4 linked regions of the Homo sapiens genome follow. The protein of the gene in region 1 purifies or fractionates together with the protein of each later gene. This does not show direct contact. Each region holds a gene or a part of one and is shown in the gene's direction. Other genes may lie near its edges. The genes, in order: FAIM, NAPG, WDR47 and THUMPD1.

Region 1 (4,342 bases):
GGCTGCAGTACAGTGAGGCGATCTCAGTTCGCTGCAACTGCCACCTCCCAAGGTCAAGTGATTCTCCTGCCTCAGCCTCCTGAGTAGCTGGGATTACAGACGCATGCCACCACGCCCGGCTAATTTTTGTATTTTTAGTAGAGCTAGGGTTTCACCACGTTGGCCAGGCTGGTCTCAAACTTCTGACCTCAGGCAATCCGCACCTGGCCTCCCAGAGTGCTGGGATTACAGGTGTAAGCCACTGTGCCCGGCTGTTTTTTTTTTTTTTTTTTTTTGAGACAGAGTCTTGCTCTTCGCCCAGGCTGGAGTGCAGTGGCTCAATCTCAGCTCACTCCAACCTCCACCTCCCAGGTTGAAGCGATTCTCCTGCCTCAGCCTCCCAAGTAGTTGGGACTACAGGCATGCACCACCACGCCCCTCTAAGTTTTATATTTTCAGTAGTGACGGGGTTTTGCCATGCCTGCCTCAGCATCCCAAAGTGCTGGGATTACAGGCGTGAGCCACTGAGCCCGGCTGTTTCTTTTTGTGTGTGTTTTTTTTAATGAAACAGGGTCTCGCTCTGTTGCCCAGGCTGGAGTGTAGTGGTGCAATCACAGCTCTCTGCAGCCTCTACCTCCCTTCAGGGCCCAAGCAATTCTCCCACCTCAGCGTCCCAAGTAGCTAGGATTACAGGCCTGAGCCGCTAATTATTTTCTTTTCTTCTTTCTCATTCTCTCTCTCTCTTTTTTTTTTTTTTTACCATGTTGCCCAGGCTGGTCTTGAACTCCTGGACTCAAGAGATCCGCCACTCTGCCTCCCAAAATGCCGTGATTACAGGTATGAGCCACCACACCCAGCAATGCTGCAAGTCTTATGGGCCAGGATAGTGTAATCTAAGAAATGATATATGAAGAACTCTCACAATAGGGAAGAGGTGAGGAGTGTCCAGGCAGAGAGAAGAGCATTTGCAGAGGCCCTGGGCGAGAAGAAACCTGCATCCTTTAAGGACCTAAATGAAGCCAAGCAGGCAGAGGCTAGATCACACATGGGGGCTTCATGCCCACCTTAAGTAGTTTGGGTCTTTAAAAAAGGAATGAGACTCATAAAGAGGTTTTAAGGAGCGAATGCTATTGCTGCCATGAACAGATATTCCTTCCCCATAGCTGCAGAGCAGGCACAGGGCTGTTTTTGCCCGCCAGTATGTCCCCACCGTCTAGCCCAGAGCGGGGCCAGCGGCCGGCTCCTACCCACACTTGCTGGCAGGAAGACTGGACGCACTGCGGGACATGGTGATGTCCTGGGTTGGGGCTGAGGAAGGCCTATGCGCGGAGGGTGCGGCCTTCGGCTAAGGCAGAGGACCAGGGTTGGGTCCGTGGCGGCGGGAGGGGTGGCCTCCTGCGCTGGTCGCCCCAGGGGACCTGAGAGGCGCGACAAACAGTCGGCGCGTTTGGTACTCGCGCCTGCAGAGCTTTCAACCTCCGCGCCGGCTGCGCCTGTTTCTCGGCCAGGGGAGCAAGGCCACGCGGCCTACGCAGCCGAGTCGGAACCAACCGGTTGTTTGGTGAAACCTACCCCAGAGCCTCCCGCGGCCCACAGAGCACAGGTGAGGCAGCAGACCGGGTGGGGTCGGTGTCGCGCCTGCGCCCGCCCGGACGCCTCGGGCCCGCCCGCTCCGCACCCTGGAAACCCCTGCACTCAGCCCCCCGGCGTCCCCACGCTCTCGGCCCTGCTGCGCCGGCGGCGGCCATCTCTGGGCGGCGGCGGCGGGCGGTGTTTGCGCGGTCGGTGAGACCCGCGCGGGTGAGACGCTGGGTGAGTTCCGGACGCTTCCAGCCGGCCCGCCGGTGATCCCAGACCTCGGGGCGGGACGCGGCTCCCGCTCACCGCCGGCAAAGGTGGAGGTGCGGCGGGGCGCGGGGCGCGGGGCCAGCCCGGGGCGGTGCGGGGGCGTCCCTGCCTAGCGAGGCCCTGCCCCGCGACCTGCCGCACCCTCCTCCGGCCTGTTCGCGACCTCTAAAGATAATACTTCTCACTGTCGAAAACGTGGAACAGAAAGCAAGGAAGCAAGCAAAGCAGCCGTGCCGCTGCTCCCCAGAGACAAGCTGCGTTAACATGAGGGTGTATATTCTTCCAGATGGTTTTTCCTTGTAACATGAGCGGGGCTTGTTTTTGCAGAACCTGCATCATAAAGTGCTGAAACTCTCTCTCTCTCTCTCTCTCTCTCTCTCTCTCTCTCTCTCTCGACTCTCTCTCTCTCGACTCTCTCTCTCTCTCTCTCGACTCTCTCTCTCTCTCTCTCTCTCTCTCGACTGTACATTCCTGTGTGTCAGGTTGACTACCTCATCCATCCCTGACTCTTGGCATGGCTTTGGACTGTGATTTACTAAATGTAGTTTCTCCCTGATGGTGAGCGTACAAGTGGTTTTCAGTTTTTAGTTATTGCAAAAAGTAATTCATTGAGCATCGTTGTATCTGGGTTTTTGAGCGTGATCATTTCTGTAGAAAGAATCGCACAAGATTCGTTCTAAAACAAGATAGAATCCACGGTCTATACCACAAGGCTTCTGGTATAGATTGTGAAATGGCCCTCAGAAAAGTTATTCTCCTTTTTGTACCTCCAGTAAGTAGCATTTGGGAATACTTGGCTCGAGGAGCTTCCTGAGTGATTTTACTGGAGACCCCCCTCACTTCATAAGGGGCCGGCCCGGAGATGAAGATGTCAACACTTGAGTGTGACTTGCATTATTGGCTGGCCCTACCTGGGGGCCTTTGCTGAAAAGGGAACCATGAGCATCTTAGTAACTACTATCATCTAGTAATTTTTAAACTGACTTCGGTTTATCTTGAACGAACCATTTCAGTCCCCAGTAAGAATAAACCTAAGTTAAGGCAAAATTCAGGTGGATTAGATGAACAGTGGCAACGTGTTGGTGTTTAAGTCATGCTCTGAAACTTAGGTGTTGGGTTGCTAGGGAAGGGATTTTAAAAGATTGATGGGTACGTATGAGATACGCAAAAAGCTTTCTTTAAAGACATGTAAAAAGTTTCAAGTGCTTGGTATCATCTCCATCAGTGAAAGTAAGTGGAATATGGTTTTTCATCTTTTTAAATTTACATTTTAATAAAATATTTGCAAAAATAGAGGGTTTTTTGTATTTATCATTTTCCAGTTTGGTCATAGAATCTTGAAAATTAAGTACATGCATAAGAGTTTAAAAACAACAGTGGATTAATTTCTTGCTCCCAAGTTTCATTTTTTTATTTTTCAGACAGAATCTCCCTCTGTCACCCAGGCTGGAGTGCAGTGGCATGATCTCGGCTCACTGCAACCTCCACCTCCCGGGTTCAAGCGATTCTTGTGCCTCAGCCTCCGGAGTAGCTGGGATTTACAGACGTGCGCTACCATGCCCGGCAAATTTTTCTATTTTTGCAAAGACAGGATTTCACCGTTTTGTCCAGGCTGGTCTTGAACTATTGACCTCAAGTGATCCGACCGCCTTGACCTCCCAAAGTGCTGGGATTACGGGGTGTGAGCCATCGCGCCTGGCCACTTTCTCCAAAGTTTTAAACCAAAGCCTTCTTCGGCAGAGCTACGACCCTTCCTCTATGGCCCATTCTATCCTATGCTGCTTCCCTTTATAAGGACACTCCCACTGTTGTGCTATAATCATCTCTTGGTATCTCCGGACTCTGCCACTCTGAGGTTAGTGCCCTGCCCAGAGCCTGGTACATAAGTACCCAATAACTATTGGTATGCTGGATGAACTTAGAATATGACATGTGTTTATTAAATTGAATTTGTAACTTAGAGATCTATGTGACAGATATTTCTGAGTGAAGTGGAAATTGGGGACAAGGACAGATGTTATCATCTTTTGGTTACAGGTGCAGTTGCATCCCAAGAAACACTACAGCCAGGACACCTGCATTTTTTTTTCTTTTTTTGTTTTTTTTTTTAACAACGTTACTGAAATATAACTCACATACCATAAAATTCACCCATTTAAAGTATACAATTCTTTCTAATATAATTAACTTTTTGAAGTGGTAAAATATATACAACATAGATTTGCCATTTTAACAATTTTTTAGTGTACAATTCAGGGGCATTAAGTACATTCACAATAGTGTGCGATCATTGTCACTATCTATTTGCCAAACTTTTCAATACCTTAAACAGAAACACAGTAACCATTAAGCAATAACTCTGTGCTATGGTTTGGATATTTGTACTTACCAAATCTCATGTTGAAATTTGATCCCCAGTGTGGCAGTATTGGGAAGTGGGGCCTAATGGGAGGTGTTTGGGTCATGGGGGCTGATCCCCAGTGAATACATTAATGCCCTCCCTTGGAGGTGAATG
Region 2 (3,743 bases), on another chromosome or scaffold:
ATTATAAACTATTATATATCCATTGAAATAAAGCTTTTCTGGCCAAACATGCAACTGAATTGGTATTTGGTGCCGCAAGTTAGGTTATTAACCACAGTTCCTTTGAAACCATAGAGTTTCTCTTACGGCCAAAGAAGCTGGGGATCTGCTCTGGTCTTCTTATGTCTCATTTTCCTCTGAGAATTAGGAAGCTCCCAGGTGGCTGTTACATTCTTAGTGTACTTCATGCCTGTTTAAGAAATGCTCAAACACTCTAATTCTCACAGCCTCAGTTTATATTACAACAGCTGTACTAAGACTTGAATCTTCATCAAAAGTTATTATTCAGGCATCATTTCCATTGCTCAAGTATCTATTTAATTTGAGGGTTGGAAAGGCACTACTTTGAATGAAAGAAAATTAACTTAGTGGATAGGGAAACAGATGAAGGAAAATGCTTTCTGGCATTGTCTTATATTTAAATTAAATGCCTTTGGACACTGTTGGGAGCACAGGACCCCTGAGCTACGTGGTCCACAATTCTGTGGGCTAAAATTTCTACCAATTTGTCATACAAACCTTCACACTGATTCACCAGAAAGGCTTGGGGAGTGCCATTTTGTAGACATATGCACAAGGGAAGCCACAGAAACTTGTTGGATCAACCTTTGGTTCTGTCACTTGATGACTGCTGTGATTTCATATCCTGTTTGCTCCACTGGCACACAGCCATTGAAAATAGGCATATTTATGGTGGAGGGTATAACTTTCAAGTAGGCAGCTCATCATTTTTTATGGAGAAGTATCAATATTGTGGTTGGACCTCTTACTCACAGCCTCACTTGATTTTACGCAAAAACAGGAAGATGTAGTTGCTAATTTTTAAACAACAAATAGGACTCGGATGCCATTTTTACTGCCTTCTAATGTATTTTTTGCTCTATCTACTGGGTAAAACTCATGACGAATAGTTCCTGTGGTTTTTTTATCCTCCCAAATGCTTTTATGTTGTAGATTCACATTATATATGTAATTAGTGGGTAGGTATATTTGGGGAGGAAATACAGTTGACCCTTGAACTACCCAAGGGTTGGGATGCCAACCCCTTGTGCAGTTGAAACTCTACATATAACTTTTTACTCCCCAAAAACTTTACTAATAGCCTGTTTTTGTTTTTTTTTTTTGAGACAGGATCTTGCTCTGTTGCCCAGGCTGGATTGCAGTGGCACAATCATGGCTTACTGCAGCCTCAACCTCCTGGGCTCAGGCGATCCTCCCACCTCAGCCTCCTGAGTAGCTGGGACTATAGGTGCATGTCACCATGCCCTGCTAATTTTTTAATTTTTTTGGTAGAGACTGGTTCTCGCTGTTTTTCCCAGGCTGGGCTCAAACTCCTGGGCTCAAGTGATACTTCTGCCTCAACCTCCCAAAGTGCTGGGATTATAGGCGTGAGCCACTACCCTACTACTGACTGGAAGTCTTATAAATAATATAAACAGTCAGTTAGTACATATGTTGTATGTTGTATGGAATATGTTTTATACTGTATTCTTAGAATAAAGCTAGAGAAAAGAAAATATTAAGAAAATCGTAAGGAAGAGAAAATATATTTAGTGTTCTTTAAGTGGAAGTAGAGCATCATAGGGCTCTTCATCCTCATCATAGTCTTCACGTTTGGGCTGAGGAGGAGGAAGAGGAGGAGGAGGAAGAAGAGGGGTTGGTTTTGCTGTCTCAGGTGGCAGAGGAGCAAGACAGTCTGCGTATAATTGGACCAGCACAGTTTAAATCTCTGCTGTTCAAGGTTCAGTTGTATTCTTTAAAAGCCAAAATGACCCTCAGGACTAATGTGTCTGAGAGAGATTTTGTTAGGTTTACCTCCCCTGTTCATTCAGATATTTTTCAGCAGATATTGTAGACTCGGATTCTTTCATTGACTTTTGGTTTTATAACAAAAAAAGTATTGTTTTTATTTTTTCACTGAGGTTTGGAAATGCATTAGCATTTCATTCTGCTTGAGTGAATGATAGCAGTCTTATTTCATACAGTGTCTTTCAGTCTGTGTTATTGTTAGTTTCCATAGCTAAATAATAAAGTTATGTTTTGGGGTTGGCGAAAATGAGACCAGTTTTGTTAAGGGTATCCTAATGAATTTGTCAACTTAGCAAGGGACTGAATAGGCAGATTTGTAAACCACCCATGAGATGTCAGTGTGGAGCCTACCTTAAGATACAGCAAGTCAACACTAAATAAGTTGCTTATGTAAACTTTATAACTAGCTTTTAAACGGTGTTTTTTTTTAAGTTTATTTTTAAAATGTTTGATTTGGAGATATTAGACATTAGGACTGCATGATCCTGAGATGTGTAGATTAATAGTAAGATACAGAATTTATTAGTCATGGAAGAGGGTTGCAAACTCAGATGAACTCAGGGTGTAGAGGAATAACTAAAATGAATGAGCAGCTGGGACGTGGAGGGCATTTGGAAGTGAAGAGCGGGGAGAAGCGCCAGGAGGTGCATGCTCATGTGGCGGGACAGTGCTGCCCAGCCCCAGCCTGTTGCCATACAGGGATGCAAGCCTGCTGATGCCGTAGCTTTTGATATTTTTTTGAAGAAAGCCATAAAACAATTTTCATGAAAGTATCTAATTTAAAAATACTGCATGGATCAAGCAAAACACACTTGGAAGTGAGATAGAGTCATTGGGCTGCCAGTTTGTGATCCTTGGCATAGGTCTTGTATGTAGTAGGGACTTGGTAAATGTTTAAAGAATAAGAAGTGCTTAGAAAACAGTAAAGAGCAAGGTTTTTGGTTTTTTCTATTTTCATAGATTTCCCAAAGGTCTGTGAAGTGATGATGAACTCTGTGTAGAAATTACCTGGTACCTTTTTGATTGGGTTTAATGAAGCTTGATTGGGAGAGTAATCATGTGAAGCATTTCATTTTAAATATCTTTATTGCTATACAATGTATTTGAGTCATTTACTTTCATGAATTAGGGATAAAATAATTGTATTTCATATCCTTTGCCCACTTTTTGATTGGGTTTTTTTTTTCTTGTAAATTTAAGTTCCTTGTAGAAAAAGAAGACATACAGCCAAGAAACATGAAAAACAGCTCATCATCATTGATCATTAGAGAAATGCAAATCAAAACCACAATGAGATCTCACGCCAGTCAGAATGGTGATGATTAAGAAGTCAGGAAACAATAGATGCTGGCCAGGCTGTGGAGAAATAGGAAAGTTTTTATACTGTTGGTGGGAGTGTAAATTAGTTCAACCGTTGTGGAAGACAGTGTGGGGATTCCTCAAGGATCTAGAACCAGAAATACCATTTGACCCAGCAATCCCATTACTGGGCATATGCCCAAAGGAACATAAATCATTCTATAGAAACGTATGTTTATACAGTAAACACGTATGTTTATTGTAGCACCATTTACAATAGCAAAGACATGGAACCAACCCAAATGCCCATCAGTGATAGACTGGATAAAGAAAATGTGGTACATATACACCATGGAATACTATGCAGCTGTAAAAAAGAATGAGATCATGTCCTTTGCAGGGACATGGATGAAGCTGGAAGCCATCATTCTTGGCAAACTAACAAACACAGGAACAGAAAACCAAACACCGCATGTTCTCACTCATACGTGGGAATTGAACCACAAGGACACATGGACACAGGGAGGGGAACATCACACTCCTGGGCCTGTCGGGGGCTGGGGAATAAGGGGAGGGAGAGCACTAGGACAAATACC
Region 3 (3,437 bases), on another chromosome or scaffold:
CAAAGTACTGCTCGAATCATGTAATTCTCTTGCTTAGAAACCTACAATGATGCTTTACTGTTTACAGAGACAAGTTCAAAACTCTGCAGTTTGAGATTTAGGCGCTTGACGGCCTGGCCCTAACCTACCTTTTGCATTTCAGTTTCAAGCTGCCTTTCAAGTTAACTTTTATCTCCAGCCAAACTGATCTACCTTCCTGTAAGCTGTTTTATACTTTTCCTCTAAACCTTTTCTCATGTAATTCTTCCTGATCGTAATAGCCCTCTTCTCTTTCAGTATTTCAAGAAAAGATTATTCTTTATTACATACAAATGTATGTGTTCGCCTGTGTATACATACATACATACTCTTATTTATGCTGTTTATTGTTTTTCAAGGTCTAACTTGTGTCCCATTTTTTTATGAAGTCTTCCTAGACCACTTTGGTCTAGAGCAGTGTTATTCAAACTTTTTTTTTTTTAATTTATTTTTTTGAGACAGGGTCTCACTCTGTCTCAAAAAAATTTATTATTTTTTTTTGAGATGGAGTCTCGCTCTGTCGCCCAGGTTGGAGTGCAGTGGCGCAATCTCAGCTCACTGCAACCTCCGCCTCCCAGGTTGAAGCGATTCTCCTGCCTCAGCATCGTGAGTAGCTGGGATTACAGGCACGTGCCACTCCGTTCGGCTAACTTTTGTATTTTTAGTAGAGATGGGGTTTCACCATGTTGGCCAGGCTGGTCTCGATCTCCTGACCTTGTGAGCCACCTGCCTCGGTCTCCCAAAGTGCTGGATTACAGGCATGAGCCACCGCGCCCAGCCTGTATAATTAATTAACAAAATAATTATTAATTATAATAATTTATAAAATAAAATTATTTATTTTATTTCTGGGAGACAAGGATTCAAGTTGCCCTGAATATATGCCCCCAAGAGCTTATTTTCTGTTCACAGTTCCTATTGGCAGTAATCTTGTGTTGCTTTAGTACATTTCCTATACTGTTGTCCTAAAATACATTTTGTTACTGAATTTCTTGTCTCTTTAACTACACTCTTAGCTGGGTATAGGAGCATTTCTAGATACTTCCAGTAGTGAAAACACTGGATTGAGAAAAGTGGTTTCTGTAGCATGGCTCATCTATTGCACTATAGGTGATGCTGTTGCACACAGTTCTCTCAAATGACAAAAAATGGACTTTCTCATTTCTTACAAAATTTTGTTTAGGCCTTGGGCCTTAAAAGGACACAACTGTTTATTGGTTAACTGTTAATTTGGATTTTTTCATCGCTGAATAGTATTGATAAACTACATTAAATCTTTAGTATATGGTTCAATGGACATAATCAGCTGTGTTGCCATTTGGGTATATTGATTTTCTGTATTTAAACTTTCATTCCTACCACTACAGGCAGTGCAGTGGCATCTGTAGCTGTAGATCCCAGTGGTCGTCTCTTAGCCACAGGTCAAGAAGATTCTAGCTGCATGTTGTATGACATAAGAGGAGGAAGAATGGTACAAAGTTATCATCCTCATTCCAGTGATGTTCGCTCTGTTCGATTCTCCCCTGGAGCTCACTACTTGCTAACAGGCTCTTATGATATGAAAATAAAGGTGACAGACCTACAAGGTGATTGAGATCGACTTCTCTGTTTTTAGTCTTTCCTGTTCTATTTGGGACCTTTATTTTTTTGTTAATGTGATGTGGTTGATTATATAATACTTTCAATTATTTTATAGTATTTATTGAGCAGATTCTGAGACTATATTAAGATATATAATAGCAAATTATTAAATAAGCAGTGAATAGTCTTATTGTTAGGTTTTGTTTTTGTTTTTATAGAGGCAGGGGCTCACTATGTTGCCCAGGCTGGTCTCGAACTCCTGGGCTCAAGTGATCCATCCGCCTTCGTCTCCCAAAGTGCTGGGATTACAGGCGTGAGCCACCACGCCCAGCCTGTTTTTGTTTTTGAGACAGGGTCTCGCTCTGTCGCCCAGGCTGGAGTGCAGTGGTGTGATCTTAGCTCACTGTATCCTCTTATCTCCCCTGCTCAAGTGATCCTCCCACCTCAGCCCTGCAAGTAGCTAGGACTACAGGTGCATGCCACCTCACCTGGCTAATATTTGTATCTTCTGTAGAGACAAAATTTTGCCATGTTGCGCAGGCTGGTCTCAAACTTCTGAGCTCAAGCGATCTGCCTGCATTGGCCTCCCAGAGTGCTGGGATTATAGGCGTGAGCCATCATGCCCAACCTTATTGTTAGTTTTTGATTTTTTTTTTTTGAGGCAGGGTCTCACTCTTTCACCCAGGCTGGAGTGCAGTGGCACGATTATTGCTCACTACACCCTTGACCTCCTGGGTTCAAGCCATCCTTCTGCCTCAGCCTCCGAATAGCTGGAACTACATCTGTGCACCACCATGGATGGCACATTTTAAAAATTTTTTTGTAAAGATGGGATCTTGCCATGTTGCCCAGGCTGGTTTTGAATTCCAGGCCTCAAGTGATCCTCCTGCCTCCGCTTAAGATATTTTTTAAAATCAACATTTATTTATAGTGACTCATTCTGAGATAAATGATGGATTTGTGTACTGTTATTAGCTTCTACATTAAAAAATCATTAGCATACAATCTTTGTAATTAGGTCTTAGTATCTAGTTTTAGTTTTAAACATTCATCAAGCAAATATTTATTGTATATCAATTAGGGACTGACAGATGAGAATAAGACAGTTAATTCCCTCCCTGATGGAGCTTATATTTTAGAGGTCAATAAAAAGTAAACCAATAAACAATGTAATTTTAGGTATTTGTGCTGTTTAAAAAATTAGTATGGTAGGGAGATAGTGACTAGGGTGAATAGGGGAAGGCTATTTATTTATTTATTTTGAGACAGAGTCTTGTTCTGTTGCCCAGGCTGGAGTGCAGTGGTGCATCTTGGCTCACTGCAGGGGGAAGGCTATTTTAAATAGGATAATTGGAGTAGGTCTCTCCAAGGAAATGCCATTTGCATAGAGACCAGAATGATGAGGAGGAACAAGCCAGGCCAGGATATTAGGAGAAGAGCACAGCAAGTATAAAGATGCTGAAGTAGGAACCAGCTTAGCACGTTCATGACACTACAGGAAGCCAATGTGCCTGGAACTTAGTGAACTAAGAGAGAGAGACACAGAAGAATAAATCAGAGGCAGGGTTTTATAGACTTTTTTTTTTTTTTTTTCTGAGACAGAGTCTCGCTCTGTCGCCCAGGCTGGAGCGCAGTGGTGCAATGTCGGCTCACTGCAAGCTCCACCTCCCAGTTCATGCCATTCTCCTGCCTCAGCCTCCCAAGTAGCTGGAACTACAGGCGCCCGCCACCACACCTGGCTAATTTTTTGTATTTTTAGTAGAGACAGAGTTTCACCATGTTAGCCTTGATCTTGATGGTCTTGATCTCCTGACCTCGTGATCTGCCTGCCTTGGCCT
Region 4 (3,071 bases), on another chromosome or scaffold:
ATCACAGCCACTTGACAAGAAAGGATATTCATTATTTTCAAATGGCTTTTGGACTATCAAAAACAGTAAGGCTTTTGTTCAGAAATCACCTTTAGTCAAAAGGTTTAAGAAGCAAATTATTTAGTAGCAGAACTTATCTCAGGAAAGGAAAATATGCATGGTTGGTGAGAATCTAATAACATTAAAATGCTGGGGCAAGATGCAGTACAAAGTTGAAGAGACTTTATTCTCAATAAGTTGATTTACTGATGATATGTCATATGATGCAAAAAAGGTTTTGTGTCATTAACTGAAAAGTAGCAGCTTCTCTATCCAGGATGATGAGTCAACAGGTTTCACTAATATTTGTCATGCTGTAGCATTTGTAAGATTTGTAAATGATGAAATTCAAAGAAAACTTTTTCTATTGCTAGGAGCCTGCCAGAACAAAGGCCAATATATAATGTTGTGACATCATATCTGATAACCAGAGGTCTGGTATCTACACTCCTGGTGCCCCATCAGTGGTTGTCTCCATAAGTCATTTTGCGTTATTAAAAAAAAAAAAAGAAATCCTGATGTTGACATTATAGCACACTGCTTTCTCCACAGAGATGCTGATATCAAAAACTTGAAGATACAGTGAAGTTCTGAATAATGTTACAAAACTGGTTACCTGTATCAAAGACCCATTTATGCAAAAATGTTAAAAAAAAAAAAAAACACCCAAAACAAAAACCTGGACAGACAGCACATAAACCTCCTGCACCATACAGACATCCAGTGGCTTCTCAGAGGAAGCGTTCTCTACAGGATATTTGAATTGAAAGGTGAATTGCCAGAGTACTTACAATAAAACAGCCAGCTTTTGCTGAGTGCTTTGGAAATGAAAAATGACTACAGAAAGTAGCCTATTTTGCAGACGTTTTTCATCACATGAACAAATGGACAAGTCTCTGAAAGGTTCTGGGGAAAAAAATTTTTCTTAAAGCGACAAGACTCTTAGATCTAAAAGGAAACTGACTTGCCACCTTGCCAGAGGAATTCTTGAAATGTTTCTGCAGCCACTTGGCCTTGAAAATAAAGGGTGCAACTCTCAAATCTTGTTCTAACCCGGCTGGAGGAACCACAAGACCCAATGAAATAGCATTTTCTCTCCTTTTCCCAGCACTAGTATATAACCTATGAGGAACCCTTGTCTCTGAATCTGCTCAGCTTGAAATTTTGTCTCTGAAGGAAGAGAATGAACTCAGCCCTAGTCTGACAGTCCTAGATTTCTGTGAAATAAGAGTATTCTTCAACTTAGTGCTCACACTCACATACCATGAGGGTTCTCTGCAGGGGTTTAGGGGTTTCCTGAATTTGAAAGTTTTTTCAAGGCCTCTTTTTGGGTAAAACAATTGAAAAGGCAGACACCAACAAAGTCTGCAAAATTAACTGTCCAGATTAAGAATATTAAGGAGCTGTAAAATTAGCTTGTAGAAATGGACTTATCCTTAAGTTTTAAAAAGTTAGGAAATCCTAAAAATGTTAGGCTTCCTGCACAAGTGGCTATGTTCATTTAATGGCTAGTGAACATGGGAATGTATTTTTATCCTCCTAGCTGGTGGTTCTGTTTGGTAAACCAGACTAGAATGATTTGAGAGGGGCAAAGAGAATAGGCAGGACCTTCCTTCTATAGCTTTACATATTTAGAATGTTAATACTTAATGACATTGAAGTTACCTTGCAATGATTGATAAGAGGATTATTAATATCAGTTAGGGGAATAGGGAGGATAGGATTTTGGTGCCTTCTTCAGCAGACTTGCTCCAAGACAAAGATTCTATTTTGATAGTGCAAGACAAAAGGACTCGGAAGAAAATTGGCCATATGCCTACAGAGCATACAACTCTGTGGAACTAAATTGTTTTTACTTTGTGAAAGCTGCTATTTTACGGAAAGATTTTGATTATACAGTTTGTTTTTAAATTGTCTTTTATATTTATTTGTATTTGGTAAGAATCGGTTGTTACACAAGCTGTTCTTTCCCAGTTACAAAATCCTGTGTTCGGTTGTAACCTGAACTCATTAAAAGACTTGTTTTCAGGTTTATCAACTGTTTATTTTCACTGACATTTGAGCATGTTATTTTATAAATGACGGGATTCCAGGGTAGGAAGTGCTTTTTATTCCCCTTTTGTTTTTTCTTTTAAAAAATTACGTCAGTTAAAAAAATAAAAAAACTGCAGTCTTATGGTTTAGAAAACTTGTTTAGCTCCATAGAGGAAAGAATGTTAAACTTTGTATTTTAAAACATGATTCTCTGAGGTTAAACTTGGTTTTCAAATGTTATTTTTACTTGTATTTTGCTTTTGGTACGGCCAGAAATCGAGCTTGTTTTTTCATAGTTCCTGATATTTTCAGAAAAATCAAAATAAATTTGTTCCCTAAAAATTGGTGTTCTAATATTTTTTCTTTCTTTCTGACTCTTAGTAAATCTCTTGCTTTATAGTATATATATATCATAAAATATGTTTATATGTCAAATTATAAAATGCCATGGACATGAGCCTAAAAAACATTAAAAAATTATTACCCTTGAATAATTAATACTTCTAAATCCAAGTTTCAGATATTTTACAGTTAATTTGCTTCAAAATGAGCCATAGTAATACAGTACTTACTTTCATTAAATTCACTTACTGATTTTTGAATTATTTATACTCATTTTAACAGTATTTTAATATATTGAAGTTTGGTCTCATAAAGTTGTTAAGTAGAAGAAATTGTCTTGAACATTTAGGATATATCTTTATTTTGAATTAATCAGGCACAAGATAGATGAAATACAGATTCATTGTGCACTTTCTTTTTCTAAGTAATCATTTGACTCCTGCAATTTTAAACACTAGAAACCATCATTACCTTTGTCAGTTTGGTTATTGAAACAATTTTCATCCATATATTTTTAGACTTTTATTTACTTTTTAATTTTTTAGCTAAGTAGAAAACAAAAACTTAAACCAGGAAGGATCTTAAACATTTTAAGAGAGTAGTCACTGAATTATCAGGAACAAATCGAGAAAGCAATCATATTACTACTTAACCCT

The links.
Region 2: the proteins of FAIM (region 1) and NAPG purify together in Homo sapiens (affinity purification with mass spectrometry; one large-scale study listed by BioGRID and IntAct). This does not show direct contact.
Region 3: the proteins of FAIM (region 1) and WDR47 purify together in Homo sapiens (affinity purification with mass spectrometry; one large-scale study listed by BioGRID and IntAct). This does not show direct contact.
Region 4: the proteins of FAIM (region 1) and THUMPD1 fractionate together in Homo sapiens (co-fractionation; one large-scale study listed by BioGRID). This does not show direct contact.

What each region holds. Positions count from the first base shown.
Region 1 is NC_000003.12:138,607,356-138,611,697, forward strand, and holds the start of FAIM (fas apoptotic inhibitory molecule 1), read left to right. Parts: upstream 1-1,415; 5' UTR 1,416-1,582; intron 1,583-1,693; exon of another isoform or gene 1,694-1,791; intron 1,792-3,248; exon of another isoform or gene 3,249-3,602; coding exon of another isoform or gene 3,603-3,682; intron 3,683-4,342. UniProt on the Homo sapiens protein: Plays a role as an inducible effector molecule that mediates Fas resistance produced by surface Ig engagement in B cells.
Region 2 is NC_000018.10:10,535,812-10,539,554, forward strand, and holds part of NAPG (gamma-soluble NSF attachment protein), read left to right. Parts: intron 1-3,121; exon of another isoform or gene 3,122-3,160; coding exon of another isoform or gene 3,161-3,163; intron 3,164-3,743. UniProt on the Homo sapiens protein: Required for vesicular transport between the endoplasmic reticulum and the Golgi apparatus.
Region 3 is NC_000001.11:108,972,703-108,976,139, reverse strand, and holds part of WDR47 (WD repeat-containing protein 47), read left to right. Parts: intron 1-1,385; coding exon 1,386-1,604; intron 1,605-3,437.
Region 4 is NC_000016.10:20,733,008-20,736,078, reverse strand, and holds the end of THUMPD1 (THUMP domain-containing protein 1), read left to right. Parts: 3' UTR 1-2,415; downstream 2,416-3,071. UniProt on the Homo sapiens protein: Functions as a tRNA-binding adapter to mediate NAT10-dependent tRNA acetylation modifying cytidine to N4-acetylcytidine (ac4C).